2 separate regions of the Homo sapiens genome follow, and region 1 is linked to region 2. The links come from fine-mapping of genetic effects on gene expression. Tissue or cell type: whole blood. Region 2 holds a variant in brackets; the other region holds the start of a gene. All regions are shown on one strand. Distances are from middle to middle.

Region 1 (2,678 bases), 190 kb before region 2:
TGAGATTACAGGTGTGAGCCACCACACCCAGCCCTTTTTAGTGTTTGTTGTTGTTGTTGTTTGAGATAGAGTTTTGCAGTTGTTGCCCAGGCTGGAGTGCAATCGCATGATCTCGGCTCACTGAAACCTCTGTCTTCCAGGTTCAAGCGATTCTCCTGCCTCAGCCTGCTGAGTAGCTGGGATTACAGGCGCGCGCCACCACATCTGGCTAATTTTGTATTTTTAGTAGAGACGGGGTTTCACCATGTTGGCCAGGCTGGTCTTGAACTCCTAACCTCAAGTGATCCACCCGCCTCAGTCTCCCAAAGTGTTGGGATTACAGGTGTGAGCCATTTCTCCTGGCCAGGATTTTTTAATTGAAAAAGAAATACATGTACATGTTAAAAGATTCAAACAGAACATTAAACATACATAACGGAGAGCGGCTCTCTGTTTTCAATTTTCCCTGCGGATGCCACTGTTAATTCATGTGCTGGGCATCTTAAGTCTGTAAGCCTCCCCCATCTCCTGCTTTATTTTATTTTATTTTTGAACCCAGAGGGGTTTAAATCCTTAAATGGCTTCTGCCCGCACTTAGCAAGCTTGGCGCCTTGGCACTGAACTAACGACAGCTGTCCTAGCCCCTGTCGCCTCTTTGGAACCTTTTATGTGGATGGATTGTTGGGGCCCTCAAAGTCGGGAGTGCCATGGTGCCAGCTGGGGATCAAGACCGCGCGCCACACAGGGGGAAGCCGGCCCAGGCTGGGGCTCGCACCTCACGTGCCTCCCGGGCCCTGCGATCCTGGAGGCGCTCCCAGGCCGCGCGCGCCACGGTCACCCACCCACGTGGGGGGCACGACCGTGGGAGTCACGGGGGGTACCGTGAGGGTCACAGGGGGTGCCGCAGGGATCCACAGTGGGCTTCCGCGGGGCCTCCACCCCTGAGCTTCACAGAGGAAGTGAAATTTGAGCTGCGCGCCCTGAAGGACTGGTAAGCGGCGGGGACAGAACTGGGCCTCCTTCCAGCTGCGCCGCCCCAGGTGCAGAAGCTTTCCTCCTAGTCTCTGTTCTCTTGCTCCGGTCCCTCCCTCCCTCCTCGCTCCATCTCCCTCCATCTCCCTCCTTCCCTCCTCCTCTTCCTCCCTCCTTTCACCCCTCCTTTTTCCCTCCCTCCTCCCTCCTCCACCCTCTCCCTGTCCCCCGCTTCTCTCTCTCGCTGCCCCTCCCTCCTTCTTTCACCCCTCCTCCTCCTACTCTCCTCCTCCTCCCTCCCCGTCCCCGCTTCTCTCCCTCGCTCCTCCTCCCTCCTTCTTTCACCCCACCTTTTTCTCTCCCTCCTCCCTCCTCCTCCTCCCTCCCCATGTCCCCTCCCTCCCTGTCCCCTCTTCTCTCCCTCGCTCCTCCTTCCTCTTTTCTCCCTCGCTCCTACCCCCTTGCTTCCCTCGCGTCTCTTGCAAAACCCGGGACGGATCGGGGGCCCAGGCCTGGCCTCCGCGCACGCGCAGGAGCAGCGCCGGCTCGGCCGCCAGTAGGAAGCGCCAGCCCAGAGCCTGGGAAGTGGCCGCAGAGGCTGCTCGGCCCCGCTGCCCGCCAGGTCGTGGGCTCCCGCTCCGGGCCCGGGGCCACCGGCTGTGTAAGTGCAAAGCGGGGGGGCTCCCGGTCAGGCAATTCGGACCGGCTGCGGGGAGGGCTGCGCGGCTGGCCGTGGAGTCGGCGCGTCCCGCGGAGGGGCTCGCCCGGCCCTCACCTGTCCGGGCGGAGCCCGCCACACCTGTCCGGGTCCGCTGCCGGGCCGGGGTTCAGCGTGCACCTGCTCGAGGCGCCCTTGCTCCTGTTGGCGCTCTGCTTACATCTGTCCAAGGCCGTGTCCCACACCCGCTGAAGACTCGGCGGACACCTGTCCGGGACCCGGCCCACACCTGCTGCCCGGGCCGGCTCTGCTCTCCCGAGCTCGCGGCGGGGGTCCCCTTCCCCTCTGTGCCTCCGAGCTGTCTCCGCCTGGCTTCCCCTCCCGGGCCGTCCGCGGCGCTGGAGCCCCCCGCCCCTGGGCCTGGCTAAGCCCACTGGAGCCCGCGGGGTCTGGGACGCGCGGCTGGGGCCTGGGGCCCAGCACAGCCCACGCCCCCGGCGCTTTCCCCGCCCTGAGTTCCCGGACTTCTCCCCTAGCCCTTTCCCTCCTGTCTCCTGGATTCAAAGTGCCTGCGATCTAGCTGGGCGGCATCAGGCGGTGCTCTCTGGGATAAGCGCGCTGTCAACTCCAACTTATCCCAGGGAACCCTGGGGAGAGGAAGTCAGGCTACTGGCCTGTGGTCTTCTCCCTGTCAGCCCACCCCAATCCCCTCCACCCCTGCAGACCTTCCCAACGTGAATGTCTGTTAACCGAAAGTTTTCCCGTGTTAGGATGCGTTGTCTGTCTTCAAATGTTTCTATAGAGAGAGGAATTAAAACGCTGGAAGCAAGGCCCAGTTGAAAGGTATGGGGGAGTGACTTCCCTTCCATCCCTCACGGCCCCAGTTTAAACTGGTGACTGTCCCGTGTTTCTAAGGTAGTCATAGCTACCTATGACATCTTTATTTGTTAACCTGAAACAAAGCACCGGGTGGATGATGTTGGAGGCCCAGGAACATTGCCGTCCTAAAGATCTGGCTAGGTTTTGTTGTGTGTGTTTGTTCGTTTTTTTAATTGTGTGGAGGACTAGT
Region 2 (2,678 bases):
ATGAGGATTGAAGTTTTGTGCATCAGATGTCTAGCCACTTCTCTGCCTAAGGCTACCACTGTTTGACTTCTAATGGCATAGATTCATTTCACCTGCCTTTACTTGGTGTTTGCACTCATGTTATTCATTCTTGAGATGAGAGTGGTGAGAGTGAGGTATATAATGGTGTAGCATTCGGGTTTCAATTTGCTTTTCCCCGATGATTGGTGAAGTTGAGCACTTTTCCAATGTTCTGGCCACTCGTATATCCTCTTTTGTATGAGGACTTTGCCCTTTTTTCCCCCATTGGTTGTCTTCTCTCTCTCTGTCTCTATCTCTGTTTCTCCCTCCCCTTCCCCATCTCTCCTGACTTGGAGGACTTCTTTATGTATACCCTTGGTGTGAGCTCTTTGTTGGACGCGTGGCGTGACCATCCTCTCCCATACTATGATTTGTTTGCCTTTACCTCTTAGTGGTGGCTTTGGATGAACAGAAGTTCTTAACTTTAATGTGGTTCATTTAATCATTTTTTCTTTTAAAAATGTTGTTTATTTGTGTCTTATTTTAAAAACTTTGTATAGTCTTTGAGAAATTTAATGATACTACCTTAATTTCATGCTTTCCTACCCACCCTCCTTTTGGGACCAATTTGGGTGAGGTAGAAAGTGCTTCTCTGGCATAAAATCCTTCATCTGGTACTCTGAACTTAATTAATTGGTTATAGAGTTTGGTTGATACTTGAACAAGCAAGCTAATATTGAATTACAGAAAATTACAGTCTACGTGGCAAACTTTTCTCACATCTCCTGTAATTTAACTTGCCCTCCCAGCTTAGCAACTGGAAAACATTTTTTCCTTACCTCAAATAAACTCTGTGGTAATCGTGTGCCCATTATTCATTACAAAATCCCCCTTTCTTTCTGAAGCAAAAGTCTTCACCTGCTTCTGTCTTCAGAAATCCATGAGTGGCTGCTGTCGCCCTGGCCCCCGCGGCCCTGTGTGGCCCAGCCTCTGCCCCATGCTTGGCTTCATCTATGGCCACCTCTCCTCTTCAGCTGGAGTCGCATTGCTGTCAGGAGCTAATTTTGGCTTCCTGGATGCTCCTGCCATCTGCCATAGACACACCCTTTCCTCCCCGGGCACGCCATGCTGACTTCTCCCACCCCTCCTGCCTCCTCAGCTCCGGAGCATTTATCCTCTGGGCTCTGGCTTGGCTGCCCTTTCTGGAAAGCCTGCCTAAGCCTGGGCTCCTGGGTCTCCTTTGCTGCCTCAGGCTGCTCTGACTTAGTGCCACAGGAGGTCTTGCCACTGTGTATGGTGATGGCTTCTTTATTGGTCTCTTTCTCTAATCAGGGTATGGTCTCTCCAAGGCAGTGACTGGGTTTTCTCTTCTATTTCCAGGGCCTGG[C/T]ACATAGCAGGTGCTCAGTACCGAGTAATTGGTGACGGAAAGACATTTGGTGGCATGGCCCTATCAGCCGCATTTCGAGAATGAGGCTGATGGGAGCATGCCTTTCTCTCCTGTTGGCTGAGTGGAGGACGTAGACAAGCGTGTGGGAACCACTGTGCGATTTTGAATGTGCGGCACGGCTCTGCCTTAGATGCTCCCCTCTCCACGCCTGCTCTGTGCAGGTCACTGCCTCTGCTGCTCTACCTTAGACACCGCCCCCTTCCCGGAGAGGCCTTCCTCTGCTTCTTGGTCATCTGAGGTCTCATCTCAAGGTCCAGCTTCTGTCCCACCTTTCTAGGCTACCTTAGCCTTTGGTGTTTCTCTTTTTTTTTTTGAGATGGAGTCTCGCTCTGTTGCCCAGGCTGGAGTGCAGTGGCGTGGTCTTGGCTTGCTGCAACCTCCGCCTCCCAGGTTCAAGAGATTCTCCTGCCTCAGCCTCCTGAGTAACTGGGATTACAGGTGCCTGCCACCATGCCTGGCTAATTTTTTGTATTTTTAGTAGAGATGTACTTTCACCAAGTTGGCCAGGCTGGTCTTGAACTCCTGACCTCAAGTGATCCATCCACCTTGGCCTTCCAAAGTGCTGGGATTACAGGCACGAGCGACCGTGCCCGACCATCCTTGGTGTTCCTTATGTCTCTGACTTCATCTGGAACTTGTTCTGTATCAACCATCATTCCATCCTCAAACTTTTATTATAAGAATACTGAACCATGCAGAAGAGTTGAAAGAATTTTATAGCAAACACTTACATACAAACCATCTAGGTACTGTAATGAACATTTTGTTATATTTGCCTTATTACATATCTATCCAGCCTCCTATCCATCCTTTAATCCATCTTATTTATTTATTTATTTATTTATTTATTTATTTATTTTATTTTATTTTTTGAGACAGAGTCTTGCTCTGTCACCCAGGCTGGAGTGCAGTGGTGCGATCTTGGCTCACTGCAAACTCCGCCTCCCGGGTTCACGCCATTCTCCTGCCTCAGCCTCCCGAGTAGCTGGGACTCCAGGCACCTGCCACCACGCCCAGCTAATTTTTTGTATTTTTAGTAGAGACAGGGTTTCACCGTGTTAGCCAGGATGGTCTTGATCTCCTGACCTCGTGATCTGCCCGCCTCAGTCTCCCAAAGTGCTGGGATTACAGGCATGAGCCACTGCACCTGGCCAAATCCATCTTATTTTTTTTTAATGCAGTTTAAAGTAAGTTGCAGTTTTCAGTATATTTTACCCCTAAATGCTGTAGC

Evidence for each region. PIP is the estimated chance that this variant, and not a neighbour inherited with it, causes the effect.
Region 1: TRAPPC9 starts here. The variant in region 2 is fine-mapped to the expression of TRAPPC9 in whole blood (INTERVAL, PIP 0.94).

What each region holds. Positions count from the first base shown.
Region 1 is chr8:140,456,573-140,459,250 of GRCh38, reverse strand. TRAPPC9 (trafficking protein particle complex subunit 9) reads left to right here and starts at 1,507. Exons shown (of 23, transcript NM_001160372.4): 1 at 1,507-1,612. RefSeq lists silencers at 653-962, 1,083-1,322, 1,413-1,802, 1,913-1,962 and an enhancer at 735-1,253.
Region 2 is chr8:140,269,182-140,271,859 of GRCh38, reverse strand. All of the region lies in intron 15 of TRAPPC9 (trafficking protein particle complex subunit 9), which reads left to right. The region is part of intron 1 of LOC105375779 (a long non-coding RNA gene); the gene reads right to left. Among named protein-coding and RNA genes, the nearest start is that of PEG13, 170 kb to the right of the region's middle. The variant C/T (reference allele first, on the strand shown) is at 1,388.